Regions from separate parts of the Homo sapiens genome. Here regions 1 and 3 are each linked to region 2. Evidence: fine-mapped expression QTL. A gene starts in region 2. Each other region holds a variant in brackets. All regions are shown on one strand. Distances are between the middles of the regions.

What was found. PIP is the estimated chance that this variant, and not a neighbour inherited with it, causes the effect.
Region 1: its variant is fine-mapped to the expression of CHRD in fibroblasts (GTEx, PIP above 0.99).
Region 3: its variant is fine-mapped to the expression of CHRD in cerebellum (GTEx, PIP above 0.99). The same link has a PIP of 0.9 or more in cerebellar hemisphere.

What each region holds. Positions count from the first base shown.
Region 1 is chr3:184,455,358-184,465,601 of GRCh38, forward strand. No RefSeq gene overlaps it. Among named protein-coding and RNA genes, the nearest start is that of LINC01839, 15 kb to the right of the region's middle. The variant A/G (reference allele first, on the strand shown) is at 4,223.
Region 2 is chr3:184,376,599-184,385,660 of GRCh38, forward strand. It overlaps CHRD (chordin), which reads left to right and starts at 3,456. Exons shown (of 23, transcript NM_003741.4): 1 at 3,456-3,868; 2 at 4,094-4,197; 3 at 4,637-4,766; 4 at 4,898-5,026; 5 at 5,118-5,217; 6 at 5,335-5,422; 7 at 5,791-5,932; 8 at 6,036-6,176; 9 at 6,258-6,340; 10 at 6,418-6,565; 11 at 6,714-6,820; 12 at 6,925-7,044; 13 at 7,939-8,095; 14 at 8,420-8,640. The coding sequence starts at 3,721. THPO (thrombopoietin) reads right to left here and starts at 1,609. Exons shown (of 6, transcript NM_000460.4): 1 at 1,477-1,609.
Region 3 is chr3:184,498,772-184,509,015 of GRCh38, forward strand. LINC01839 (long intergenic non-protein coding RNA 1839) reads left to right here. Exons shown (of 8, transcript XR_924788.3): 3 at 4,989-5,116; 4 at 5,665-6,408; 5 at 8,664-9,632; 6 at 9,755-9,928. It also overlaps the pseudogene TEDDM3P. Among named protein-coding and RNA genes, the nearest start is that of LINC01839, 28 kb to the left of the region's middle. The variant C/T (reference allele first, on the strand shown) is at 4,996.

The DNA.
Region 1 (10,244 bases), 79 kb after region 2:
GGGAGAGATGTCAGATGGCTCTAGATATATCTGAGTTTTCGCTCTAGAGAAGTCAGAAACTATACTGTATCTTACAGATATAGATATAGGGGATTTAAGGTTATGTAGTTGGGTTGATACCAGACATGATTTTTAAAATCCTTTTTCTTTCTTATTTAATTTATTTCTCACAACTCATGACCTAATCAAATATAGTTTCCATTTAAATTACAAATGACTTTTCATTAAAATTACAAAGCATATAATTTTTGCGCTAAATATAAAAACCTATCATTTTGAGCAGATTGCAAGGAACGCAAACATCCAGGGTCCTCAATGACCTTTCCTGCTGACCCTCTCAATTACTGCTGAATTGTTCATGGTTTGCACCAAGCTGGAGTTAATGTAACTATCTTACCCTTTCCATCCGACAGTGAAAGTGCTTAAAACCTTTCTGGGCCTTTAATTAGATTTGTCAACATACACACATGTTGCTGCAATTCTAATTATCCTAGAAAAACTAATACAAATCATGATAGCACTCCTATGTGCCAAGGCACTGTGCTAAGCACTTTACATATCTACTAACTCATTTAATTCTTCACAACACTCCCTTTGATCCCTCTTTTATAGATGAGCAAGTGAAGCACAAACCTGCCCAAATCATTGGTTAGCGGGGACCTCACCTGGGCTATTCTCTGCTAATTCTGGGGAAAGGTTTCCCATGCCTACCCTTCATGAGTTTCTGTATCCTTCCCCATCTGCAAGAAGAACATAGCTCCAAATATGCTACATCAGCTGGTGACTGTGTTTCAGTCACAATCTGGTTTTTTTTTTTCTGCCAACCTTTTCTTCTGAAAAATTCCTGATCCCATTTTAGAAGTGACCTGCCATGATGCCAACCACCTGGTGTCCTCTAGTGTGGGGACATCTGGCGCCTGGCTCACACCCAGAGGGAGTGAACCAAACCTTGGTGGGCTGCTAGGGGTGACACCCAGGCACATCCTTGGGGATCCTTGTCCCAGAAAAGGGCTCAGTCCAGGTTGGGCACCGTCAGGGGTCGTCAGGAAACAGCTGGGAGGATTTCATCAGATCCCCTCTTAGCACATGGTTGCAGCAGTTAATAATGAGAGGGAGAATTGGCTGGCCTGGAGGCCAGCAGAGTCTTCTGGAACTCTGGAGAGCCTCACCCCAAGGAACAGCCCAGTTTGGTCCATATGAAGGTCCTAGAAACCATAAGGTCTGCATTTGGAGCAGCAGTAGTAGAGGCAACGTTTTCTCTGAGCTCCTCCTGTCCTGAGAGGCAAGACCTGTCTTCCTACACCATGCCCCAGTCCCCGGCCCACTCACTGGGTCTTGGCTCTACCTTCTTGCTCCTTCTCTGTGCACTCCCTCACCCCCACTCCGTGCAGGGACCTGCCTGGAACAGACACTGGCTTTGAGTTCTTGACATCTAGTAAAGACAACCCATGAGCACGTAAAAGCCTCACAATACAGAGCAGGATTAATAAGAACAAAATGCAAAGCAAGTGGAGATCAAGGAGGAAGATATTCCCAGCTGGGGAGTCACAGCAGACCTCATAGAGGAGGGGGCGTTTGAATTGAACTGTGAAGGTCCAGACATTGCAAGAGGAGGGCCTGGTGTGGGAAATCACAAGAGGAGAATATGGTTCAGTGAGGCTGAAGCAAGGTGCACGATGAGTGGATGGCGCTGGACTGGCAGGTCTGGGCAACTTGGATAGGGCCTTAACTGTTGGACTACCCATCTCTATGGGGTTGCGAGCTCAAGCTCAGGGGTGAGAGATGGCCTGGACTGTTATCTCGTCTAATTTCTGTTACGTATAACAGAATACTTGAAACTGGGTAATTTATTTTAAAAAGGAATTTATTTCTTACAGTTATGAAGACTGAGAAGTCCAAGATCAAGGAGCCGGATCTGGCGAGAGCCTTCTTGTTGGTGGGGACTCTTTGCAGAGTCCTGAGGTGGCACAGGGCATCACATGGTGAGGGGCTGAGTGTGCTAGCTCAGGTGTCTCTTCCTCTTCTTATAAGGCCACCAGCCCCACTCCCATGATAACCCATGAATCCATTCATCCACAAATGGATTAATCCAGTCATAAGGGCAGAGCCTCATGACCCAGTCACTTCTTAAAGGCCCCACCTCTCAACACTGTCATTTGGAGATTAAGTTTCAACATGAGTTTAGGAGGGGATTAACATTCAAACCATAGCAGCAGGGACTGTAACAAGTGAGCTGTCTCCAGGGCCATGCCTGGCAGCCTCTATTGGGAGCCTATTTCTGTGCCCTCCCTTGCCGTGTGCATCAGGTGAATAGGGGTGAGGGATGTCTAATGTTGAAAGGGACCTGGGGTGGAGGAATAGATCACAGGTCAAGGGGAAGGGGAAATTGGAGGGGAGAAAGCATGTGTGTAGGTCTCTTCTGGGACCAGGTGAACAGCCAGCCAGATGCTCAAGTCAGAAACTAGGGCATCATCCTGGGCTCCTCCCTTCCTTCACTCCTGTATTAGTTTGTTTTCATGCTGCTAATAAAGACATACCTGAGACTGGGTAATTTATACAGAAAAGAGGTTTAATGGACTCACAGTTCCACATGGCTGGGGAGGCCTCACAATCATGGCGGAAGGCAAGGAGGAGCAAGTCACATCTTACATGGATGGCAGCAGGCAAAGAGAGAGCTTGTGCAGGGAAACTCCCCCTTATAAAACCATCGGATTTCATGAGACTTATTCACTATCACAAGAACAGCATGGGAAAGACCTGTCCCCATGATTCAATTACCTCCTACCGGGTCCCTCCCACAACATTCAAGAATTGTGGAAGCTACAATTCAAGATGAGATTTGGGGCCAGCGCAGTGGCTCACAGCCTGTAATCCCAGCACTTTGGGAGGCTGAGGCAGGTGGATCACCTGAGGTCAGGAGTTCGAGACCGGCCTGGCCAATGCTATCTCTACTAAAAATACAAAAATTAGCTAGGCATGGTGGTGCGTGCCTGTAATCCCAGCTACTCAGGAGGCTGAGGCATGAGAATCATTTGAACCTGGGAGGCAGATGTTGCAGTGAGCCAAGATTGTGCCACTCACTCCAGCCTGGGTGATGGAGCAAGACTCCATCTCAAAAAAAAAAATAAAAAGAAGATGAGATTTGGGTGGGGACACAGCCAAACCATATCAACCCCTCATGGTCAATTGCTCACTGTGTTCACCCAGTTCTACCTGCTATGGGGTTATTTGGACTTTCCTCTCCATTCCACCACCCCAACTTGGTTCTCTCCTGGACCATTGCAGCATCATCTTGACTCTTCCTCACTTCATCTCCTGGCTTTTCTCTTCCATAGAGAGGTCTTGTTAATATTCACATCTCATCATGTCATTTCCCTGATGAACATTCTTCAAGTTCCCTGTGTCAGCTGCAGGTGGAATCTGAACTTCTTTTTTTTTGAGACAGAATCTTGCTCTTGTTGCCCAGGCTGGAGTGCAATGGTGCAATCTTGGCTCACCGCAACCTCTGCCTCCCAGGTTCCAGCGATTCTCCTGCCTCAGCCTCCTGAGTACCTGGGATTATAGGCGTGCACCACCACACCTGGCTAATTTTTGTATTTTTTTAGTAGAGATGGGGTTTCTCCATATTGGTCAGGCTGGTCTCGAACTGCTGACCTCAGGTGATCCACCTGCCTCAGCCTCCCAAAGTGCTGGGATTACAGGCATGAGCCACCGTGCCCGGCCCAGAATCTGAACTTCTGTGGCCAGGCAGAAAAGGTCCTGTGTTACTCGTCTCCTTTATCATTCATGTCCATATTCTCCCATTTGCTAACATTTATGTTTCTGCTCCACTGGATTCTTTGGATTTTTCTAGAACATACCCATGCTTTGCATTGCCTTGGTCTTTGAATATTTGGTCCACTTTTCCTGCAAAGTCCCCTCTCACCTTATCTTCCTGGTAAACTTCCAGCCAACACCTCTTTACTAACCAGAGAAACATGGTTCAACTGTGCACAGGCTTGCACAGAAACTGTTCTCATATTGTCTTGTCATTGTCAATGTGGCAGAGATGCACCTTAGATACCTCTTTGAGAAAGGACTCACTGCCCAGCTGCCTGGCACGTGATGAGCTGATAGCTCCAGCTATAGACTCCTTTAGGGTCAACCTCTGCTTTCCAGTTGAGATCATATCCTTTGCAGGGTGGCCTCCCCAGTGATGACTAAGGCAGTGTTACAATGGCCT[A/G]GTCATTTCCTCCCAATGCTGGACTCCCAATGAACCATCTGCTCCGGAGCTTCCCACTGGGCAGTCAGAGACCTTAGCTAGTCTGCCTCCGAATCAGAGGGCTCTCTCTGCCCACTCTGGCTTCCGCCTCTTTCTTTTCACAAGTCCTACTCCCCAGTGAAAGTTTTGAATTCCTAACTCCATCTCAGCATCCATTTTGTTTTTTGTTTGTTTGTTTTTTTCCTTTTTTTTGTTGAGACGGAGTTTCACTTTTGTTGCCCAGACTGGAGTGCGGTGGTGCGATCTCCGCTTACTGCAACCTCTGCCTCCCAGGTTCAAGCGATTCTCCTGCCTCAGCCTCCTGAGTAGCTGGAATTACAAGCATGCACCACCATGCCTGGCTAATTTTTGTATTTTTAGTAGAGACGGGGTTTCACCACGTTGGCCAGGCTGATCTCGAACTCTGACCTCAGGTGATCCATCTGCCTCAGCCTCCCAAAGTGCTGGGATTACAGGTGTGAACCACTGCGCCTGGCTCTTTTTTTTTTTTTAGGATGGAGTTTCACTCTATTGCCCAGGCTGGAGTTCAATCTCGGCTCACCACAACCTCCACCTCCAGGGTTCAAGCAATTCTCCTGCCTCAGCCTCCCGAGTAGCTGGGATTACAGGTGCATGCCACCATGCCCAGCTAATTTTTGTATTTTTAGTAGAGATGGGGTTTCACCATGCTGGCCAGGCTGGTCCCGAACTCCTGACCTCGTGATCCACCCGCCTTGGCCTCTCATAGTGCTGGGATTACAGGTGTGACCCACCGTGCCGGGCCTATGGGTTTTCAATAGTGGTCCAAGAAAGTAGTTGGTAAGACGGGGTTTGGGGGCTGGATCACTCCACCACCAACTGGCAATGAGGCCACGCCCCAGGAGTTAAGTGAGCATGGAAAGTCCCCAGCACATGTTGGTGGCCCTATTGTTAAACATTTCACTGATGCTGACGTGGGAGAATGTACCAGTGAAGGGGAATGAACTGGCTTATGTGATAAGTCAGGCATTTGAAAGGTACACAGGGGAGAAAAACATTCTATACAATATGGATATTATATGATGTATAATATATATGAATATAGAATATATGAATTATAGATAGATACATGGAAATGAACAATTGCATTGGTGATCTACAGACACATAATGAAAAGCTGAGGGCAATTAACAAACAATTGAAAACTAAGTGTGAAAGCCAGAGGATTTCTTTGGCAGCTGATGAAGAATCCTTCATGTCCTCTGCTCGGTGAAGAAAAGGAACTGAAGATGAAGCCATGAGTTAATAGAGTGGCTGCACTCCAAAGATGGCTGAATGCTCTAGCGATTCAGATCTCTGGGACCCCGACACATGGGATGGGACCTCGAGGTGGGTGCCCCTGAACATTCTGAAGCCCTGAGCTTCTCTGGCTCTCAGAACCTGCAGAGGTGGCTCATCCCCTACACTTGAGAGTACTCCCTCCTCCTCTGTGTTGGGGGACAATGCAGAGGTCTTTTTTTTTTTTTTTTTTTTTTTGAGATGGAGTCTCACTCTGTCGCCTGGCTGGAGTGCAGTGGTGTGATCTCGGCTCACTGCAACCTCCGCCTCCTGGGTTCAAGCGATTCTCCTGCCTCAGTCTTCCTCAGTAGCTGGGACTACAGGCACGTGCCACCACGTCCAGCTAATTTTTGTATTTTTAATACAGGGTTTCACCATGTTGGTCAGGATGGTCTTGATCTCTTGAGCTTGTGATCCGCCCTCCTTGGCCTCCCAAAGCACTGGGATTACAGGCCTGAGCCATGGCACCCGGCCTGACAAGGCAGAGGTCTTTCCCCTACAAGGCAACAGGTGTCCCTAGGCAGCTGCCTTCACCTCATCCTCTGGCTGCTAGACTTAACTCCTGGGGTGTGGCCCTCATTGCCAGTGGGTAGCTAGACTTTACTACTGGGTTAAATCGTTGCGTAGTTTGCCTGGGGATATGCTAGTTGGATACAGGAGGAAAGGTGCTATATTCCAAAGGAGCTGTAAGATCTAGTCAACAGGTGCCAGCAGAGGCTGTGGGAGTACTTGTGGGCCTGGATTCTGAGAGCTTCATGGGACTGGAGAAGGGAGCTATAAGGCACAGGATTTAACCCCCTGGTAAGGACCCCAGGGAGGGTGCAAGATAACTGCTAGGGTGGTTCATTGAAGCCTGGACAAAGTGGCAGGTCAAGCTGAGTGAGGTTGAAATATCTGAATTGCCGGGGAAGAGGGCAGAGAAAGGGATCAAAAGCCTTGGGAAAGTGGGTGGGCATTTGGAATGGAGGCAGTATGTTAGGCAAAAGAGAATAGGATTCTATGGGGAGACAGGGGAACACACCATTTGCCACGGTCATGACTAGGTTGTTCAGTGTTGGCCCTCCCCTGCAGGCCAGGACTGATGCTGGGAGAGGCAGGCACAGAACTTGGTTTGCTGATTGTACTGGAGAGGATAGGGCTGGGGCAATAGAGAGCAGGGCGCAGCACTTAGCGGTCAGAAGACAGGGGTCAGAACAACTGTAGCAGCAGAGAAGGTCAGAGTGATAATTACAGAGGTTTGATGTTCAGACAGTTATGGAGATGGCTAAGAGAACACAGTGTCTCCAGTGGAAAAGTAGACAAGCAGCCCAAAGGGAACTGTTATGTATAGAAGTACAGTTGGCCCTCTGTATCCATAGATTCTGCATCTGTGGATTCAACCAATTGTGGGTGGAAAATATATATATATTTTAAATTTTGTGTGGCTGAGTGCAGTAGCTCACACCTGTAATCCCAGCACTTTGGGAGGCCGAGGCAGGAGGATTGCTGGAGACCAGGCATTCAAGATCAGCCTGGGCAACATGGTGAGACCCTGTTGCCACAAAAGATTGAAAACAAAAATTCATCTGCACCGAACATGTACAGACATTTTTTGTTCTTGTCATTATTCCCTTAAAAATACAGTATAACTACTATTTACATAGCATTTACATTATATTAGGTATTATAAGTACTCGGGATTATTTATTCAGGAGGATGTGTGTAGGTGTGTGCAAATACCGTGCCTTTTTTTTTTTCTTTTTTTGAAACAGAGTCTCACTCTGTCGCCCAGGCTAGAGTGTAGTGGCGTGATGTCAGCTCACTGCAACCTCCGCCTCCCAGGTTCCAGTGATTCTCCCGCCTCAGCCTCCCAAGTAACTGGGATTACAGGCGCCCACCACCACGCCCAGCTAATTTTTGTATTTTTAGTAGAGACGGGGTTTCACCATGTTGGCCAGGCTGGTCTCTAACTCCTGACCTCGAGATCCACCCACCTCGACCTCCCAAAGTGCTGGGATTACAGGCATGAGCCACCATGCCTGGCCAATACTGTGCCATTTTATTATCAGGGACTTGAGCATCCATGGATTTTGGCATCCATAGGGGTCCTGTAACCAATACTGCACAAATACCAAGGGACAACTGTATTCAAAAAAGACCAAAAATTAATAAGCAGGAGGCTGAGGGTAGTTGCCCCAATAAAGTCATGATCCCTTGCCCAGTGTCTGAACCTCAGCCAGTTTTCAGACTCAGGACCTATTGGCTGCAGAGGTGGTTGGAACCATAGGAGAATCCTGCAATATCATGGCAAGTATGCACTTTAATGATATCTGCAGTCCTTCCCCAAAAGGACCTTACATTTACCATAGTGCTATGTCCTGGGTAAGAGGGTAATACTCAGATTTTTTTTTTTTTTTTTTTTAGACAACGTCTTACTGTGTTGCCCAGGCTGGAGTGCAGTGGCGCGATCTTGGCTTACTGCAACCTCCATCTCCTGGGTTCAAGTGATTCTCCCACCTCAGCCTCTGGAGTAGCTGGGATTACAGGTGAGCACCACCACACCTGGCTAATTTTTGTATTTTTATTAGAGATGGGGTTTCACCATGTTGGCCAGGGTGGTCTTGAACTCCTGACCTCAAGTGATCCACCTACCTCTGCCTACCTAAGTCCTGGGATTACAGGCATGTGTCACCACGCCCAGCCAAGATAATATTCAGATATTTCAAGGACAGTTGGACACAGAGTCTGAGTTGATGTTGCTGTCCAGAGGCCTGAAGTGTTATCATGGTGCCTCTGTTAGTTTAGAGCATATGGAGTCCTGGCCAAAAACTCTGCTTACAGGGGGGTTATGATGTTCATAGACTCATCTGATGGCCTGTGGAACAGAGATTGACAAACTTGGTAGTTGGGGTAACCTCCACATTGGAACCTTTGCCTATAGGTTAAGTGCCATGAGAGCGGTAAAGCCCAGACACAATCCTCTGAAACTGCCACTGACCAGCCAGAATAAAAACACAAAACAGTAAAAAAACAGTATATCAAAAACAGTATCTATCACATTCTGAGGGGAAAGGTGGAAATGAATGCCATACTTAAGAATCTGAAGGCTGCAGAGATGCTGGTCCTCATCTTATCTTCACATAATCAACAGTCTGGCCCCTGTTCGTCGTAGTGATAAGTGAGCCCCATTTGGGTACCAAGACCTCTGACTTTGTGGAGCCCAGAGGTGCAGGGATGGGAAGCACGAGTTCACCCAGGGGGTCATTGGGAGTGATGGCAAATGAGCCACTCTTACTTTTTTTCTTAAGAAACTCACAGTCTACACTCCTGCTTTTTAACTCCTTTGTTCCTAGGTCCATCTGTTCTTCCTACTGAGGTTGTAGCAACATATAAAGGTTTCTGATCCAGTTAGCATTCTGTGCCCTGGAGGATGGTGCCTCCAAGCCAGCACTCCAACTGTGCCACCAACAAGTCATTCCAAAGAGCTAGCATGCCGGCAGCTTCTGATGGTGTGGCAGGTGAGACCACCAGTGATCTCATGATCATGGCCTTACTTTGCTGTAAAGGGAATTCCCTGGTCAGATGCTGCATTAACTACACGTCCTCATCTTTTGTATTCTTGGTGTTCTGGCATTTGGGATCTTGATCCTGCCTCTCTCAGGGCTAGCTAACTCCTAGAAATAGCAAACAACCTCCCTGCAAGCACGTCCTTGATAGGAAAACCAACCAATCCAAGTCCACATCCCCAACCGTGTCCTTTATCAAATTCTCATATATCAAGCCAATATTCCCCCGCCCTAAATCACCCCAGGGCCGTGTACCAAACAATTGGGGATCACTCTTTTTTTTTTTTTTTTTTTCAGACAGCGTCTTCCTCTTTTGCCCAGGCTGGAGTGCAGTGATGCGATCTCAGCTCACTGCAAGCTCCGCCTCCCGGGTTCACGTCATTCTCCTGCCTCAGCCTCCCGAGTAGCTGGGACTACAGGCGTCCGCCACCACGCCCAGCTAATTTTTTGTATTTTTAGTAGAGACAGGGTTTCACCGTGTTAGCCAGGATGGTTTCGATCTCCTGACCTCGTGATCCGCCCGCCTCGGCCTCCCAAAGTGCTGGGATTACAGGCGTGAGCCACCGCGCCCGGCAGGGATCACTCTTTATAGCCCAGGGCCTGCCAAAACGATTTCATCTCTCCAATCCTGGACTCAGCATACCTACCCTGCCTTGTCTGCTACTCTCCATGAGAACCCCCATAGAGGCTCCGGGCTGCGCTCTGCCCTCACCTCTCTTTTGCCTCCTGATCAATCCCAGTCCTTCTTCACGTGGCCGTGCATGGTGTGCTGTGCCTCCTGTTTCCAGGATCTGTGAGGATAGACTTCCTTCTTCATTACAGTCATTTCCACGTCTGCATATTTGGCCATATCTGGTTAATACGAATCCTGGGTACATTTGCATAACAGATGCTCTGTTGTGTGGGATGACATGCCTGTGAATCAGGCATTCCATAAGCCTTTGGATAGCAGTGCTGGTTGAGACCTTATGGGAAAGAAAGGCAAACTTATACCCAGAATAGATGTCTATTCTCGTGAGAAAAAACTGCTGACCTTCTAGGATAGAAGGGTTCCAGTGAAGACAACTTGCCACCATGTGGCTGGTTGGTCTCTTTAAGAAGTAGTGCCATACCACAGGCTTAGCATGGATCTCTGTGCTGGC
Region 2 (9,062 bases):
CTTTGGGAGTCCAAGGCGGGTGGATCACCTGAGGTCAGGAGTTCGCCACCAGCCTCACTAACATGGTGAAACCCCGGCTCTACGAAATACAAAAAAACTAGCAGGGTGTGGTGGTTCATGCCTGTAATCCAAGCTACTTGGGAGGCTGAGACAGGAGAATCGCTTGTACCTGGGAGGCGGAGGTTGTGGTGAGCCGAGATCGCACCATTGCACTCCAGCCTGGGCAATAAGAGTGAAACTCCGTCTCAAAAAAAAAAAAGAAAGAAAGAAAGAAAGAAAGAAAGCAAGAAAGCATATGGTGTCTCCTTTTTGTCAGGACTCCTCAGTGAATCGGACATGGATTTGGTGCCACCTACCCCTGCTGAGAGCAGCAGGACATGATATGTATACACACATATCTTAATTAGCCTTAAATTCTGAGCAACCTTGGTTGTTAGGTCAGAGAAAATCTGGGATGGGGATAGAGAAGGAAAGTATTGTGGCTTCAGCCTGGAGAAGAGAGTGGAAAATGGGATGCAGGGCCTGGGTGAGGAACTGGCAAACGGGCGCAATATGTTGAGGGGTAACTTCTGCGGTGGGGAGTGGGGCTGGGGAGGGGAACTGCACAAAGCTGTAACTGGGACCACTAGAGGTCAGGATTAAAAGGCGGTATGGGAGAAATTAACCTCTATTCTTTCCCTATCTACCCCCACACATAAAGCCACTGGAGCTTTTCTCTGGACTCCAAGTCCTGAAATACTCCATTATCTGAGGCCAAGAGATGGGCTAACAGTTCTGGGACTTCCTTCCTGAGACCAGCTGCCCAGGAACGGGCACCTGCTGGGTGATGCCCACCTTAGGGGCTTACCTTGTCTTAGGCGCCCACTAACATATCTGTCTCATAGCTCACACCTGCCTCCCTGCCCCCTTGGCAGAACCCCTTCCGGTTCCTTCACAGGACCCCCCACATGGCTTCCTCCTCCTTTCACAAGTTGTGCAAAGAGGCTTGCACCTGATTCAATATTGGGATTTCCTGTAGGTCTGTCAACATGAGTGGGCCCTCCTCCCATTACCCTCTCCTTGCGCCCTGGCTTGCCTGGCCCAGCTTCCCCAGCACCAGATTCAGAACCTTAAGCTAACGAGGAATGACCAGCTAAGAATGGGGATTGGGGCTGTGTCCATCTTACTACTGTGTTTGCTAAGCCCTAAGTGCAGCTCCCTCTCTTATTTTCTCCCTGGGCTCATGTCCCCTTTCCTTAGGGCCAGCCAGGGCTGTGCTGTATTCCACCAAGTAAGTGATCAGTCCCTCAGAAACCAGCACCCCACCCCCTACCCCTGCTCTGCCCTGCTCCTCCCATTCTGGGAAGGCTACACTCTTCTCGACAAAGGTCAGTGCCTGTAGGTTCCAGTTTGCCTGCCCCTCCCCCAGCTGGGAGCCCATTTCTCTTTGCTGTCCTTTCTACCCTCACATAACCCCACACCCTGCTGGCCACTCACCGGGTGGAGAAGGGCTCCAGGACCCAAGTGCACAGCAGGCAGCCCTCTGGGGAGCAGATGGGTAGGAAGACATGTGGCGGTGGGGCACAGCCCCTCCACAGCAGCAGGTCATACGCCTGCCTGGGCCACTTCTGCCCAATCAGAGAAGGGAGCCACCAGACACTGGTGAAGGCCCCCGGAAGTGACGCCTTCTCTTCCCTGGAGCCCCTGCCTGGACCAGGGTCCACTCCTCCACCCACACACACCACGGAGAAGATTTGGATAGGGGGATCCATCTTTTCCTGGACATGGGCAACCTGGGACCTGGAGGGGGACAGGAGCAGAAGTTTTTTTCCAGGAGGAATCTGGCAGGACATTTGTGTTGCTGGGGAAGAAGCACAGAGGTCTTGTTTAAGATTGGTGGGGTTTTCACTCCCTGGCTATCCAAATTTCTTTTCCCTGGACATCATACCTGCTGCTGAAATCCAACAGGATGCTTGCTTTCCTGCTTTTCTTTCTGTAATCCCCTAGGGAGTCCTATCTTGTCATTCCCCCTTTCGAAGTGGGAACACGGATATTGCCCACATGAGAGAAATCTCCTGTTATGGGTTGGTGTTATGGGGAAAGGGTTTGGACGGGTTGAGTGGACTGTCAGGTGCGGGGCACATGTATGTGCGCACACGTGCACTGGGTTAAGCCTGAGCTTAGGTGCTCGTCTGCTGGGGTCCAGTGGCTTAGATGGCTACACACACAGACCTCTGTGCCCAGGGCCCTCCTTTGCTTGTTCTGTCTCCGTCTTCCATCTCCTACCGTTCCACATGTGACAAGAGGAATAACCAGGCCCATGTGTCCCTGTCTTAGGAAAGACAGCTGCTGGACCTCCCCCGCAAATACCTCCCTGCTGGCCCCCCTTTTCCTTTGGCCCTGGCTCTAGCTCCTTTGCTTTCTTCCCAGTCCCAGTCTCCCCACAGTCTCTGTCCTCAGGGGCTTCCTGGCCTGACCTTGATCCCATCATCCCCCTGTCCCCCAGAACTTCCTCAGGCTCTCTCCTGTTCCTCCTCCCCAAGGATGGGCATGTCTGCTGAGAAGTGTGGCCTAGATCCTGGAATTTTCCCGTCCAGCCAGACGAGATGTCTCCCAAGATTAGGAAGGAGGGTGCTGGGATAGCTGGGAGGATAGTGGGTGTGTGTGGGAGGGAGAGACAGGAGACAGGGAGGCAGGCATGACCAGGGAACCAAGAGAAAGGAGGCTGGGAGTGGGCTGGAGAGGCAGAGGGTCCCTTGGGTGAAGGAAGGGGGTGAGAAAGCAAGAGGGGACTGTCGAATGCGCCTGAGGATAAGTTACAATGAGAGGGAGATACTGTCACTCCACAGAAGGGGGAATGCTGCCGGTTTCTGGCTAGGTCCCTGTCCTGGGTAACACAAGAATGAGGAGCGACCTCAGAGAGAAGGTAGGGAGGCAGGCTAGGCAGTGAGAGAGGGTGGTGAGGGTTTGGGGGGCGCTGTGGGCCCAGGCAGGGGGAGATCGGCTGATGGACCTTTCCTGTACGTTGTCATCTTTAAAGACAAGTCTTCATCCTTCGGGCGGAACCGGGTCCTCGCTCACAGAGCGGTCCAGGCCTCAGGCCTAGCCTCTGCCCCTCCCTAGCCTGAGGCTCCCTTCCTGGGCTGGACACCGACCTCCTGGTCCAGCCGCCCTGTGGCCGCCAGCAGCGGGGGGCTCCGGGCCCGCCTCTCCTCCCCCTCTTCGCGCCCCCTGGTCCCTCCCCTCCCCCTCCCCCGCTCCCCCTTCCCCTCCCGCCCCTCCCTCCTCCCCTGCCCGGTCCCAGCCCCTCCCTCCCCTCCCCCACCCGCGATCCGGGCCGCTGCTGCTGGGTCGGACCCCCCGGGCTCAGCCCGGCCCCTCGCCGAGCTGCCGCCGCCGCCCCGTTTGCTGAGGAGGAGGCCCCCGGCCGGGGCGTCGGGCGCGGGGCATAAAACGGGCCGGAGCCGGCGCCCGGGGCAGTAGAGCCGCGTACGGCCCGGGTCAGCGCCCGCCCGCCCGCGCTCCTCCCGGCCGCTCCTCCCGCCCCGCCCGGCCCGGCGCCGACTCTGCGGCCGCCCGACGAGCCCCTCGCGGCACTGCCCCGGCCCCGGCCCCGGCCCCGGCCCCCTCCCGCCGCACCGCCCCCGGCCCGGCCCTCCGCCCTCCGCACTCCCGCCTCCCTCCCTCCGCCCGCTCCCGCGCCCTCCTCCCTCCCTCCTCCCCAGCTGTCCCGTTCGCGTCATGCCGAGCCTCCCGGCCCCGCCGGCCCCGCTGCTGCTCCTCGGGCTGCTGCTGCTCGGCTCCCGGCCGGCCCGCGGCGCCGGCCCAGAGCCCCCCGTGCTGCCCATCCGTTCTGAGAAGGAGCCGCTGCCCGTTCGGGGAGCGGCAGGTAGGTGGGCGCCCGGGGGAGGCGCGGGCGGGGAGTCGGGCTCGGGGCGAGTCAGCGCCAGCCCGGAGGGGGCGCGGGGCGCAGGTGGCTCGGCGCGGCGGGCGGCCCGGAGGGTGGGCGGGGGCAGAAGGGCGCGGTGCCTGGGACCCGGGACCCGCGGGCAGCCCCCGGGGCGGCACACGGCGCGAGCTGGGCAGCGGCCTCCAGCCAAGCCCGTCCCCGCAGGCTGCACCTTCGGCGGGAAGGTCTATGCCTTGGACGAGACGTGGCACCCGGACCTAGGGGAGCCATTCGGGGTGATGCGCTGCGTGCTGTGCGCCTGCGAGGCGGTGAGTGCACCCCGCGGCCGGCCCGGGCCCTGGCGGGTGGGGAGCGCCGGGTCGCGCGGGCGTCGGAGTGGACTCGGAGCTGCTGAGAAGGAGCCCAGTCGGCAGATGTTGGGGATATTTTTCTGGTGGAGGAAGGGGAATCAGCCCCTCCAATTCTTAGGTGCTGTTACTGATCGCCCACTCTGTGTGAGGCTCTGTGCCAACTCCGTTTCGTTCCCTGCTCATCTAACTCTCATGGCAGCCTTGCTAGATAGAGAGTATTATTATCCCCATTTTCCAGACAGGGACCTTGAGGCCCAGAGAGATGAAGTAGCTTGTCTAGGGTCACGCAGCTTGTAAGTGGCAGAGCTGGCTGACTCTGCGGGACATCCTTGCCTGGGGGGGTCTCATCAGTTGGCATCTTGCACTCACTTGGGTTTCCCGCCTTTTCCGGGAGCAGCCTCAGTGGGGTCGCCGTACCAGGGGCCCTGGCAGGGTCAGCTGCAAGAACATCAAACCAGAGTGCCCAACCCCGGCCTGTGGGCAGCCGCGCCAGCTGCCGGGACACTGCTGCCAGACCTGCCCCCAGGGTAAGTCTTGCTCCGCCCTGCGGGGAGGGAGGCAGGGCCACGATACTAGGTCCCGGGCCACTTGGATGGGGCGTCGGACTGGCCTTTCCCATGGCCAGCTGAAGCCCGTGTTCTTACCCCCCCGCCCGCAGAGCGCAGCAGTTCGGAGCGGCAGCCGAGCGGCCTGTCCTTCGAGTATCCGCGGGACCCGGAGCATCGCAGTTATAGCGACCGCGGGGAGCCAGGCGCTGAGGAGCGGGCCCGTGGTGACGGCCACACGGGTAGGGGGCTGGCGAACAGCGGGGTTGTGGTTGAGGCTGGGCCACCAAAGCGGCGTTTGACAGTGCTCAGGCCATCTTCCTCCCGTCCCAGACTTCGTGGCGCTGCTGACAGGGCCGAGGTCGCAGGCGGTGGCACGAGCCCGAGTCTCGCTGCTGCGCTCTAGCCTCCGCTTCTCTATCTCCTACAGGCGGTGAGAAAGGGGAAGGAGCAAGGAGGGGTCAGCTGCCGGGGCCCGGGAGGGAAACTGGGAGAGCTGGGAGGGGCTGCTTTTGGCTCAGTCCGGCCTCACCCGACCTCTCATTCCCAGGCTGGACCGCCCTACCAGGATCCGCTTCTCAGACTCCAATGGCAGTGTCCTGTTTGAGCACCCTGCAGCCCCCACCCAAGATGGCCTGGTGAGATGATGCCATTTATGAGCACTTGCCCAGTCTGGGCACTGTGCCGAGAGCATGCTCTGCATTGCCTCCCGTGGTCCTCACCACAGCCCAGTGGGAGGAAGGCACTGACATTATGATGCCCATTTTACAGAAGGGGGAACTGAGGCTCAGTAGGATAATGTGATTTGTTCAAGGTCACACAGCTAGTAAGTGGTGCAGCCAGGATTGGAACCCAAGCATCTGGCTCCAGCGTTCTTTCTTAAGCTTCCTAGGGCACCCTGGAGGTTCCTTTCCATGTTCCTTTTTCATAAGCCCTGCCTGGGCATCCTAATTGGCCTAGCCTGCACAGTGTCTGAGCGTAGGGCCTTCTTGTCTCTCTGCTCCAGGTCTGTGGGGTGTGGCGGGCAGTGCCTCGGTTGTCTCTGCGGCTCCTTAGGGCAGAACAGCTGCATGTGGCACTTGTGACACTCACTCACCCTTCAGGGGAGGTCTGGGGGCCTCTCATCCGGCACCGGGCCCTGGCTGCAGGTAGGGAGCAAAGAGCCCCGGGCGTGAAGTTCTGAGTCTTCTCTATCACCCAGGAAAGGGGGGGAGGGTTTCTGACGGGCTCTCATCATCGTCCCTTCCCCAGAGACCTTCAGTGCCATCCTGACTCTAGAAGGCCCCCCACAGCAGGGCGTAGGGGGCATCACCCTGCTCACTCTCAGTGACACAGAGGACTCCTTGCATTTTTTGCTGCTCTTCCGAGGGCTGCTGGAACCCAGGAGTGGGGGTAAGTGGGATGGGGGCAAAACACGTGAGAAGGTTAGGGAGAGCACCTGTCTCAGAAAGGCCCACATGTGCGGCCTTGCAGGACTAACCCAGGTTCCCTTGAGGCTCCAGATTCTACACCAGGGGCAGCTACTGCGAGAACTTCAGGCCAATGTCTCAGCCCAGGTGAGTGGGGATCTGGCTCTCGCTGCCACCTGTCTTGGCCTCTTGCTATTGCCCATCACACCCTGCTCTGTCCCCAGGAACCAGGCTTTGCTGAGGTGCTGCCCAACCTGACAGTCCAGGAGATGGACTGGCTGGTGCTGGGGGAGCTGCAGATGGCCCTGGAGTGGGCAGGCAGGCCAGGGCTGCGCATCAGTGGACACATTGCTGCCAGGAAGAGCTGCGACGGTGAGGCGGGGGGGGGGCCTGGTGCGCCGGGCATGCACAACTGAGAGACACAGACAAGTGCCAGGGTGGGTGTGGGAGAGATCCTGTGGACTGGGGGTGTAAGCGGCCATGGGGTAAACCTAGCCTCACCTGTCTTGCCCCTCCGTAGTCCTGCAAAGTGTCCTTTGTGGGGCTGATGCCCTGATCCCAGTCCAGACGGGTGCTGCCGGCTCAGCCAGCCTCACGCTGCTAGGAAATGGCTCCCTGATCTATCAGGTAAGAGCCAGGGGCTGCAGAAGGTGGGGGAGGGGTGGCGTGGGCAGCAGGCCCCAGGCCTTTACTGCCTCTCCACTTTGCCCTCCTCCATCCCTGCCCATCAGGTGCAAGTGGTAGGGACAAGCAGTGAGGTGGTGGCCATGACACTGGAGACCAAGCCTCAGCGGAGGGATCAGCGCACTGTCCTGTGCCACATGGCTGGACTCCAGCCAGGAGGACACACGGTGAGGGCTCCAGGTGGAGCTGGACCCCAGGGCCCAATGCATGGGCTGTGGGAAGCCAGGTTGGATGAGCAGGGATGTTCATTATCATCCACTCACTCATGGGTTCTCCCACTCATTCATTTATTCATTTGACTTTTTTTTTTTTTTTTTTTTGAGATGGAGTCTGGCTCTGTCACCAGGCTGGAGTGCAGTGGTGTGATCTTGGCTTACTGCAACCTCTGCCTCCTGGGTTCAAGCGATTCTCCTGCCTCAGCCTCCCAAGTAGCTGGGACCACAGGTGTGCACCACCACACCCAGCTAATTTCTGTATTTTTAGTAGAGACGGGGTTTCACCGTGTTGGCCAGGATGGTCTTGATCTCTTGACCTCATGGTCCGCCCACTTCGGCCTCCCAAAGTGCTGGGATTACAGGCGAGAGCCACCGTGCCCGGCATGATTTGACATTTTTAGTGAGCCCCAGACTAGGGACTAGAGTACAAAGCAAATCATATGTGGCCCCTGTGCTTAGCAAGCTCACAGTCAAATGGGAGCATTGGACCTGGAGAACAGTGCCACAGGCCACATATTAGTAAATGTAATGGCAATGGTTGCTACTTATAGGGCCTTTCCATGTGCTAGGTGCTGCATTGGTGGCCTTACATAGTTTTTGGCTTTCACAGTATCCATTTGAGAGATGAGGAAGTGAAGACTTGGAGAAGTTAAGTTACTCTTGAAGGTTGTTACATAGCTAGGAAGCAGCAGGGGAGGGCCTTGAAACTGGGCCTGCCAGGTCCTTATCCTGTGTTTCTGGTGTGTGGAAGTGTGTGTGGGTGGAGTGGGGGCACAAAATGGTCCAAGACTTCAGAACCTTGGACTCGTGTGAGAGCTGAGAAGGCCTATCCTCCCCTGCCCCCAGGCCGTGGGTATCTGCCCTGGGCTGGGTGCCCGAGGGGCTCATATGCTGCTGCAGAATGAGCTCTTCCTGAACGTGGGCACCAAGGACTTCCCAGACGGAGAGCTTCGGGGGCACGTGGCTGCCCTGCCCTACTGTGGGCATAGCGCCCGCCATGACAGTGAGTGTCCTTAGGGGTCTGTCTGCCCTTTGGTTTCCTAGAACATTTGAGGGATGGTGGCAGACAGCCGGAGCCTGGTGTGTCTTTCTTTGTGCCTAAGCTCCGGTTGCCATCTGAAGGTGGGGACATATAGGGTGGCCCTGCTGGCGGACTCTTCCTGTTGCTGAGGTTCAAGGGTCTAAAACTTGCTGCTCTCCAGGCCCTGGACCTATGGACAGTGTCTTCCAGCTCGTGGAATGTGTGCTGGGGAGCTGGGAATGCTGGGTTTGAGGGCTTGCCCTAGGCCACCTTCTCACCTGTCATCTCTCCTCTGTCTGGACCCAGCGCTGCCCGTGCCCCTAGCAGGAGCCCTGGTGCTACCCCCTGTGAAGAGCCAAGCAGCAGGGCACGCCTGGCTTTCCTTGGATACCCACTGTCACCTGCACTATGAAGTGCTGCTGGCTGGGCTTGGTGGCTCAGAACAAGGCACTGTCACTGCCCACCTCCTTGGGCCTCCTGGAACGCCAGGGCCTCGGCGGCTGCTGAAGGGATTCTATGGCTCAGAGGTAAGGATGTGATGGTAGGCGGCAGCTTGGAACATTTCTGTTTTTTAGCTTGAAGGGCTGTGTGGGCCTGTGTTGGGGAAAGCAGAGAGCAGGCAGCCTGGTATAGAAGAGCTGGCATAAATAAAATAAATTAAACAGTGATTTGTAGGCTGGGTGCAGTGGCTCAAGCCTGTAATCCCAGCACTTTGGGAGGCCAGGTGGGTGGATCACCTGAGGTAGGAAGCTCAAGACTAGCCTGACCAACATGGAGAAACCCCATCTCTACTAAAAATACAAAATTAGCTGGGCGTGGTGGCACATGCCTATAATCCCAGCTACTCCAGAGGCTGAGGCAGGAGAATCGCTTGAACCTGGGAGGTGGAGGTTGCAGTGAGCCGAGATGGCGCCATTGCACTCCAGCCTGGACAGAAAGAGCAAAAATC
Region 3 (10,244 bases), 120 kb after region 2:
AACGTGTTGAAACCCCGTCTCTACTAAAAATGCAAAAATTAGCTGGGCATGGTGGTGGGTGCCTGTAGTCCCAGCTACTCAGGAGGCTGAGGCAGGAGAATTGCTTGAACCTAGGAGACGGAGGTTGCAGTGAGCCGAGACCAAGTCACTGCACTCCAGCCTGGGTGACAGAGTGAGACTCCATCTCGAAAACAAACAAAAAACAAACATGAAAATTCCTCATACTGCCATACTGAGAGTGAATAAAAAACAGAGAAATTGAGAAAACAGAAGACTTCACCATTATGGAAAAACGGACCCCCTGTCTTTCACACATTGAGAGACTTCATTTGCAGGCATACCCGTGCATACCGTAGTCCTGCCCCATCTAAGAAATATGGTGTCTACGGGCGCTCTTTCCTCTCTGTCTACTTCCTCAATTCATTTCCTCCTCTTGGATCCTGAAAACTGCCAGAAAAAAGCAGCACTCCTGTTCTCATTTCATGTATGTGCTTGGCCAGAATAATGAGAGAGAAAAGAGACAGACCTGGAGAGAAGAGAATGATGGATGAGAAGTTACCCCAGGGGCTGGCAGGTTTATTTGGGAACGAGAAAGATGGCTCCCGAGATAGAAGCTAGCCTGTGAATTCTAAGGCATTTCCATGCTATGCGTGCTGTGGGCACCCTTGAAACTCTCATTACAAAAGGCATAGAACAAAGACAGTTTCTGTACCTAGACGCCTCCATCCAGCAGCACAGCCTCTGCCCTGAGCTTCTCAAGCTCTTCACCACTGGAATTGGTGAGGCACGGCTAGTACCTGGCCCCTGGTAACGCTGTCCAGGAGGAGCAGTGACGGTGCCAGAGGCTGCAGAGGCCATAGACAGCAGCCAGCACGGCAGCCCCCAAGCCCAGGTGCCAGGAGAAGAAGCGAGTGAGGAAGGCAAGGTCCATGGGGTTCTCCACCTGCAGGGCTGTCCGGAGGGAGGCGCAAACATCAGCACACACAGCTGCAGCATCCAGTTGCTGAGCCCCAGCCCCACCCAGGTCTTGAGCACCCAGAGCTGGGGCTGGTCAGGGACCCAGACCTTGATGGTGAGCACCAGGGAGACCAGGAAGGGGGGCACGCTGAAGAGCTCACGCACACGGATCTCCAGGGTGCCCTTGTTCTCAATGTGGGCTGCCATCAGTAGTGCCAGCACATAGGAGCCCAAGGCCTTGACTGCTTGCTCTAGCTTCATATTCTACCATTCCTGACACGACTGGCTTACAATGTCCACCACGCCAGTGAGCATAAAGAACTCGTACATGGTGATGTGCTGCCAGCTGTCCTTGAACACGAATGGCCACCGCGGATCCTCCCAGTCTACCACCATCAGCCGATTTACTCCAGACGGGTAGAATAACTTGGGTAAGATGCCAGCCAGGGTGATGACCACCTTCACCACACCTTCTAGTGGCACCAGCTACCACCACCTGTGTCCTCACTTCTCCCTGGAGGGCAGAGGGAGTTTGAGGAGCCTCTGTTCCTGTAGCAGGGCCAGAGACACCAGCACCATATAGTAGAGTGAGTAGAGAAGGAAGAACATTGCTGGCAGCAGGTGTCCCTCGAGGGTGCCCATGGCTTTAGTGTGTGTGTTGGGGCCAACGGGGCGAGAGCTGGTAGATGAGCAGCAACCTCACACACACATGACCGGCATCCTCACAGGCAGGAGTGGCTGCCTCTGAACCACGGAGAGATCATGCTGACGAGCCCCACCCCTGCCTCCCACACACAGAAAGGAATAGGTCTTGTTGCAGAAACCTGAGCCACACCCCAGGGTGGGACGCCTTTAAGAGGGTCCTCCAGGGTGGGACCGCTGCAGCCACCTTGCTCTGCTCCTTACTTAAATCGGCTAGGCCCAGCATTTCAATCTGTGCACCTCACTGCAGATGTCAGTTTCACAGATGCTGATTCAGCGTTTCTTTCACCAGCCCCTCTGCCACAGCGCCCTACCCCTGCAGAGAGGAAACAAAGAGAGTGAAGGAGCTCCAGCAAAGAGGAGTAGGGCTGACTCTCAGGCTGACTTTTCTCTCAGTGCTTGGCACAGTACATACTTTTCTCTCATTTAACAACTCTATGAGGGAGGTGTTATTAGGTGAAATTTTACAAGTGAAATGAAGGTCCAGAGCGGTGCAGAGACATGCACAAAGTGGTCCATCTGCCAGCTGGCACAGCAGAGCCAGGACGTGGACCCGGGTCTGCTCATCCAACAAAGCCTGAAGTTTATGCACAGCAAAACTACTGACATTCACTTCCAACCCCGTAATCATGACTGTGGGGAATTTACTTGGTCTTCTTGAGTCTCAGCTTCCTGATGTGTAGAATGGGAATAATAATTACTTCATAGATTTGTTATGAGAATTAAATGGGATTATATATAAAGTGTCTGATACATAGTGAATAATGATGGTGATTATGAATAATTTAGCTTTTTTTTTTTTTTTTTGAGATGGAGTCTGGCTCTGTCACCCAGGCTGGAGTGCAGTGGCACGATCTTGGCTCACTGCAAGCTCCGCTTCTTGGGTTCACACCATTCTCCTGCCTCAGCCTCCTGAGTAGCTGGGACTACAGACGCCCGCCACCGTGCCCAGCTAATTTTTGTATTTTTAGTAGAGACGGGGTTTCACCGTGTTAGCCAGGATGGTCTCGACCTCCTGACCTCTTGATCCCCCCACCTCGGCCTCCCAAAGTGTTGGGATTACAGGCGTGAGCCACTGCGCCCGGCCCTCCTATTGTTATTACTAGCAGTCCTTGCTAAATTTCTATGATCCTGAAGTTTTTAAAGTATTTCTTTGAATGATACCAAAGCAAGAGTCATAAAGAAAAACAGTAACATATTTAATTATATTAAAAATTGTAAGTTATTTATTAATAAAAATTAAACATGTACTGATTAAAATTACAGTTTAAAATTTTCAAAAGAAAAACAAAATAAAATTGTGCCCCATATGTAAGAAAGTGTTAGTCTCCTTACAACATAGAAAGCACTTACAAAGAAAAAAGTTAAAAATATGGCCAGGTGCCGTGGCTCACACCTGTAACACCAGCACTTTGGGAGGCCAAGGAGGGCAGACCGCTAGGTCAGGTATTCGAGACTAGCATGGCCAACATGGTCAAATCTTGTCTCTACTAAAAATACAAAAATTAGCCAGGCATGGTGGTGCGTGCCTATTATCTCAGCTACTTGGGAGGCTGAGGCAGGAGAATTGCTTGAACCCAGGAGGCAGAAGTTGCAGTGAGCTGAGATCATGCCACTGCACTACAGCCTAGGTGACAGAGCAAGACTCCATTTAAAAAATAATAAAAAATAAAAAATAAATAAACACCTCAGGAGAAAAATGGACAAAGGACAGAAAGTGGCTATTCGTGCCAAGGGAACTATAGATGCCTCATAAACATGAAAGGCAAAAAAATTGGGGGCTGTAGCATTCTTGGTTGACAGGCTTTCCTTTTTCTTTTAGCACTTTGAATATATCAGCCCCCTGCCTTCCGGTCTCCAAACTTTCTGATGAGAAATCTGCTAGTAATCTTATTGAGGATCCCTTGTATATGACAAGTGGCTTCCCTCTTGCTGCTTTCAAGAGTCGCTCTTTGTCTTTGTCTTTTGATGGTTTAATGATGATGTACCTTAATGTAGATCTCTAAGTTCATCCTACTTGTTGAACTTCTTAGATATTTATGTTCATGTCTTTCATCAAATTTGGAATGTTTTCAGCTATTTCCTTAAATACTCTCTCTGCCCTTCTCTCTCTCTTCTCCACTGGCTGCGGCAAGGACTTTTCATTAACACAGAGACATAGAATTGCTGCTACAGAGGAGGTAGAGAGGTGTGGCTGAAATCCAGAGGAGGTAGATAGGTGTGGCTGAAATCCAGAGGAGACAGAGGGGTGTGGCTGAAATCCAGAGGAGGTAGAGAGGCGTGGATGAAATCCAGAGGAGGTAGAGAGGTGTGGCTGAAATCCAGAGGAGACAGAGGGGTGTGGCTGAAATCCAGAGGAGGTAGAGAGGCGTGGATGAAATCCAGAGGAGGTAGATAGGTGTGGCCAAAATCCAGAGGAGACAGAGGGGTGTGGCTGAAATCCAGAGGAGGTAGAGAGGCGTGGATGAAATCCAGAGGAGGTAGAGAGGTGTGGCTGAAATCCAGAGGAGGTAGAGAGGCGTGACTGAAATCCAGAGGAGGTAGAGAGGCGTGGATGAAATCCAGAGGAGGTAGAGAGGTGTGGCTGAAATCCAGAGGACGTAGAGAGGTGTGGCTGAAATCCAGAGGAGGTAGAGAGGTGTGGCCAAAATCCAGAGGAGGTAGAGAGGTGTGGCTGAAATCCAGAGGAGGTAGAGAGGTGTGGCCGAAATCCAGAGGAGGCAGAGGGGTGTGGCCGAAATCCAGGTGCTTCACCAGGTTGTTTTCTTAGGCTTGGGTCCAGTGGTAGTTAAAGAAAGACACTTCCATAATCCTAAGTAGGCATGATCACTAAAGGATATTTGATTTATTTATTTATTCAATAATAAAACTTCCAAATTCCAGACATTTTTCTAGGCCCCGAGGATACAATAATGAAAAAGACAGGGAAGAAACAAATAAATGCACAATTAAAAAAGAAAAAATGATAGAGAATGATAAATAATAATGGCAAACTCCCTCCTCCCTGCCAAAAAATACTTAAATTAAGGCTATTGAAATAGCGAGTAGCTCTTTCAGATTGAACCATCAGAGACGATGTCTAAGAAAGTAACATTTAATCCAAGATTAAATTAGCATTAGAGGCCAGCCATACCATATCCGACTGCATGTGTGAGTCACTCCATCACATAAAAAACAAAGGAGGAGCTCAATAAAAGCCAAGACCCTGATAACCTCTGTTGATGGAATATGTTATTTTTAATATTTTCAGTGTTTTGGTCTGTTTTGTGCTGCTATAACAGAATGCCTGAGACTGGGTAATTTATAAAGAACAGAAATTTATTTCTTAGAGTTCTT[C/T]GGGCTGGGAAGTCCAAGATCAAGGCACTACCATGTGATGCAGGCAGAAGGTGGAAGGACAAAAGGGAAGAAACCTCATGTCCCCACATGGTGGAAAAGCAGAAGTGCAAGAGAGAACCAGGTTTTTCTGTCAAGCACCTTTATAAGGATTCTTAATCCCATTCATGAGGAGTATCACGGACTAGTCACCTCTTAAAGGCCCCATCTCTTAATACTATCACACTGGCAAAAGCTGAATTTTGGAGGGGACACATTCAAATCATAACATTCAGTAATTGTCTTCCTAGCCAGAATCTGATTTTGTTTTTTGCCATGATGAACCATAGTGGGGCACTCCAGGTAATAAGGCAATGGGGTAATGTATCTTTCCTTATCCATCTTTTTCTGCATTTTGCAATGAATAAGTATTACCTTTGTAATTAGGGACTATGTGAAAACTTGAAATCAATGACACAATTATTTAATGCATGGAGAAGTAAGTAGGATATGAAGACACCAAAATGTGGCAATTTCTGTCTACGCTTTTTTGTATTTTTCAAATGTTCTGAAACTTTATTAATTTTATTTTTATGGTAAAATTATTAATATGAAACTCTTTATAAGAGCTCTTCTCAGTCATCAAAGTATTTCTTTTCTTTTTACTTTTTTTTTTTTTTTTTTTTGAGACAGGATCTTACTTTGTCACCCAGGCTGGAATGCAGTGGCCCAATCATGGCTTACTGCAGCCTCGACCTCCTGCACTCAAGCGATCCTCCCACCTCAGCGTCTGGAGTAGCTGGGACCACAGGCGTGTGCCATCACACCTTACAAATTTTTGTGTATTTTGTACAGATGGGGCTTCACCATGTTGCTCAGGCTGGTCTCAAACTCCTGGGCTAAAACAATCTGTCTGCCTCAGCCTTCCAAAGTGCTGAGATTACAGGCATGAGCCACAGTGCCTGGCCAAAGTATTTCTTTATACATGTGTCTTTATGTGTATGATTATTTATATACCTATATATATAATACTGACAACTGTTAAAGATACCAAAAAGCACAAAGACGAGTAAAAAGAGTGAATATAACACAACAAATGCCAACTCAGAGAGAACAAGTGTTAACATTTTGTCCTGCTTGTTTCCAGGGTTTTAAAAAACTAAGTAAATAAAACATTCAAATTCTTCTGATCCCATTCCCATACCTCCCTTCCTCCACTGGGAGAACCAATATCATGATTTGGTGTGGATCTTTCTTATCATTTTGTCACTTTGTATACATTTGCCTGTCTCTTTATCTGTTTATCTACCTACCTATCTATCTGCCTATCATCTATCTATCTGATCATTCTCTGTATATTTCTAATTCTGCAGAAAGAAGGAACAGAAGGAGCTCTTGCTTGAGTAAGGCACTGGTCATGCCTCAATTAGAACCCATGTAAGTGAAGTTCCTTTGTAATGAAGTCAGTGCAGTTAAATGAAAAAAAGTTGGGGGGGGGGCGAAATTCAAGAATCATGCAAAAATACAGTTGATGGGAACCATATGTCCGAGTGGCCGCATTCCAATGAACAAGGCAAATCCACAGATGTGCTGGTCGTAAATTCCTCCCAAATCCTATTGTGTCCACAAGGTAACTAAAGGTAAATAGGACTAACCTTTATCACTGCTCCCTAAAAAGCGGCCATGGGTCCCAGTGTGTCTGTCTCTCCCCATCTCCCAAATCAGCAGTCACTTACCATCTGCTACTCTGAGCCCTCCCAGTTTCCAGAAGGAGACAGTGTCTCATAATAATCACTTACCCCTCTTGACTGGTAGATTAATCTTTAGCACATGAGTTTCAGTCGCTGTGATACCCGAATACGTCATTTTAAGCCTCTCATCTCCAGTTGAAGAAGGAGAACCCTTAGCTTTACCCACAGCTAAAGGAATCTGGGGAATCAGCCAGCAGGTGCTGAGGTGTGTTTGTCATGGGGGAGGGGTTCTTGAGTGCAAATCTGATTTAGATCTTCTGACCCATGGGTGCCCATTAGAATCACCGGTGAGCTTTTAAAAATAACAGCAATTACTTGGGCTTTCCCCCCAGAAATTCTGATTTAATTAGCTTGGGGTTGGGCTTGGGCATTCATGCTTTTAAAACTTCCCCTGCAGACACTAAAGGAAAAATACTGTATGATTCCATTTATATAGGGTACCCAGAGTAGTCAAATTCATAGAGGAAGAAAATAGATTGGTGGTTGCCAGGGGGCTGAGTAGAAGGGAGTGAATTGTGGCCTAATGTACAGAGTTTCAGTCTGGGAAGATGGAAGAGTTCTGAAGACGGACGATGATGATGATTGCACAGCAATGGTGATGTATTTAATGCCAATGAACTGTATACCTAATAGTGGTAAAAGTGGTCAGTTTTATGTCACATATATTTCACCACACTAAACAAAGTGAAGTATGTAAGCTCCTGTGGTGATTCTACTGTGAAATCCTGTCCAGAGCTGCCTTATACTACCTGTGATGACTGTTGAAAGGGAGGGTCCTCTTGATGAGTTGGGTCCTCCTTCTTCCCACCCTGCTGCCCCGGGAGGCTCAGCTGAGTGCCCTTCTGGTTTCAGCTTTTGCTGCTATTGGAGGGCAAAGGAGTTCACTTTTCTTTTAAGATTTGGCCTGTCAGCTGCCCAAGACTGGTTCTGGAAACCCTCTCGATGCCCCCTGTAAGCGTCTCTGCATCCAGTAGCAACTTTTCACAATAGAGAGTAGAATGGCAATCTCATACCAGAAGGGGTTTTATTTATTCTCTGGTCTCTTCTGATATCTATGGCTGGAGCCTCCTCCCCTTCCTCTCTTTTTCCAGACTTACGCATGCTTCGTTTGATTCAATCACATAATCTGACTCATGAAGGTATAAATCATGCAAGAATAACCAGCCAGTTAATGTCAAATAGGGACGACCATATGTCCATGGGGATGACTAGTTCTTTGTATCTTTTCCAGTGAAATGTGCTTATCTAGTTTATAATTCCATTGTTAGTGGAAAGTATATGAATTTGACTCAGCCCCTGTCCTACCTTCTGAGGGGAAGTCCAATGCTCTGCCCAATGTTCCCCCTCCCGTCTGGCTTGGAGTGTCTGAATCTGCTCAAGCGGTGCCTTACTTGCAAACACATTCTGCAGAAGCTCCCTTTGCTCCGTTTCTGCACTGACCCAGATGGGAGACTCGGCTCCTTTCCACGGATTGTCACCTCTAATATCTGGAAAACAAAACAAAACAAAGCAAAACAAAAACACATGCAAAAGACATTTGTTCGCTCAGCAGGCTTTATTATGTGTATGAGGATGATGATATCATCCCAAAGCAAAGTTCTCAATATTGGGTATTCAATATTTCTGTTCTTAAAAGTCCTTCAGTAATATCAGATGATTCTATTCCTATAAAGTCCCCAACTGGTGAAAGGAAGCTAAGGTATTAGAAGTCAGGTGAGTGGTTAGCATGGTGGGGGAGTGACTGAGTGGAAGCATTAGGGGGCTTCTGGTGTTCTAGTAGAGTTCAATTTCTTGATTAGATGCTAGTTACACATGTGATTTTGGAAAAGCCACTGAACTCGTGATTTGTGCTCTTCTCTGTATTTATGTTATGCTTCAATAATAAAGTTTATGTTAAAAACTAAAGAAAAGATAAGAAGTCTCCAACCACCTCATGTGCAGGCAGGTTACTCAACTCTGCAGAGAGGGACAGAAGGGTCTTCTACCAACCCAGCATCTGCACCCCTGAAGTCAGACATGGCTGTGGTCGCTTTTGGGTTTTGACCTGTTAGCAATGTTTTCAAAAAGGACCAAGAGAATGCAGGCATACAAGCACTTTGTGGATGGTGGGCCCTGTGCAGATTTGGCCTGTCACAAACCCTGCTTCATACACATCCTCATAGCAATCACAGCAGTGAAAACTGGGAAGACTCGCCCAGGTGCCCGCTCCCCACTGGCCCGCCCTTACTCCCTCCACCTCTCCACAGCAACTCATCCTTTGGACCACCCAAACCTGTCAGAAGAGTGTCTCCGTCTCCATTTTTGACTTTCCAGAGAGGTCTGAAGCCACCTCCACACAGTGAGGTGGCAGACTTGTGGACAGGTCCTGAAGCCATACCAGGAGCTGACCAGCCCCAGAAAATGAGGACATGGCTGCAGGGATAGAAAGCCAAACTGTGGGTCAAGGGGACTTCAGCCTGTCCATCTGGGGGCACGCTTAAAGGTCTATGATGGGGCCAAAAAGAAAGGTGCAGGCTAAGGACAGAAGGACAGCTCAGCCTGAACAGCCCCATCCTGCAGCCCACCCCAGCCCTGAGCCTCTGGAACTCTATCACTGCATCCTGGGGCACCTGCCCCCCAAGCCCCCACCCCAGGAAGAGTATCTATGCTGTCAGAGGCTGCAGACGGTGCCAGCAGAAGGTGGAGAGGAAGCTTGGGGCCTTTGGTGGGTGGGACGCATCAACACACACAGCCGCAGCAGCTGCACATAGATCAACAGGCCATCCGTGCCTCGAACACCTACATCAACGGCCAAGGCCTTGGCCACCCTGCCCAGCTCCGTGCACCGCTAGTTGCCTTGGTGGATCACAGCCGCTCCACGCTCCACAGGAAGAATCCCAAACCCGGTGACCGGCTGCCCCAGCATTCCAAGTAAGACCAGTTCCTCAAGGTCCTCCCTGTTCTTCCTCACCATCTGTTTTGTCCTTGGAGGATGAAAGAACTTAGCAAGGATGATATTAAGGAGACAACCGCTTTCTCTGTCTCTTCCACAGGTACCTGCTGCTGATACCTCTACCCTTGGTTAGACACAATTCCAGCAGGGCAGGACCACTTGCCCTGAGGAGAAGAGCCCAGGGACTCGTCACAGGCAGGGAACCACTGCCTCTTCTATCCTGCCTGGAGCATAACGGCGGTCCAATGAGTAGACAGGTGGACTCACCACTCAGGTAAGTGCTTCCCGGGGCAGCAGGAGGTGCCTCAATAATGGCATTTTGCCCTTGTGCCTTCAGTCACACCCGTCTGCTCTGCCCAGGCATAAAGCTGATACATGGGAATGGTGTGTGCCATGGCAATGAAGATCATCATTATGACCATGGTGCCCGCATGCCAGGACTCTGCGGCCTGGAACTACAAGTCCAGTCTGATTCACAGGAGCATCCACATTCTGACGCCTCTTAGCCCCCACCTGATCACAGAGGCTCTTAGGGTCTTGCAGAGTTTCCCTTCAGCACCTGCGCTGAGGGAGACTCTGGAATCTCACCG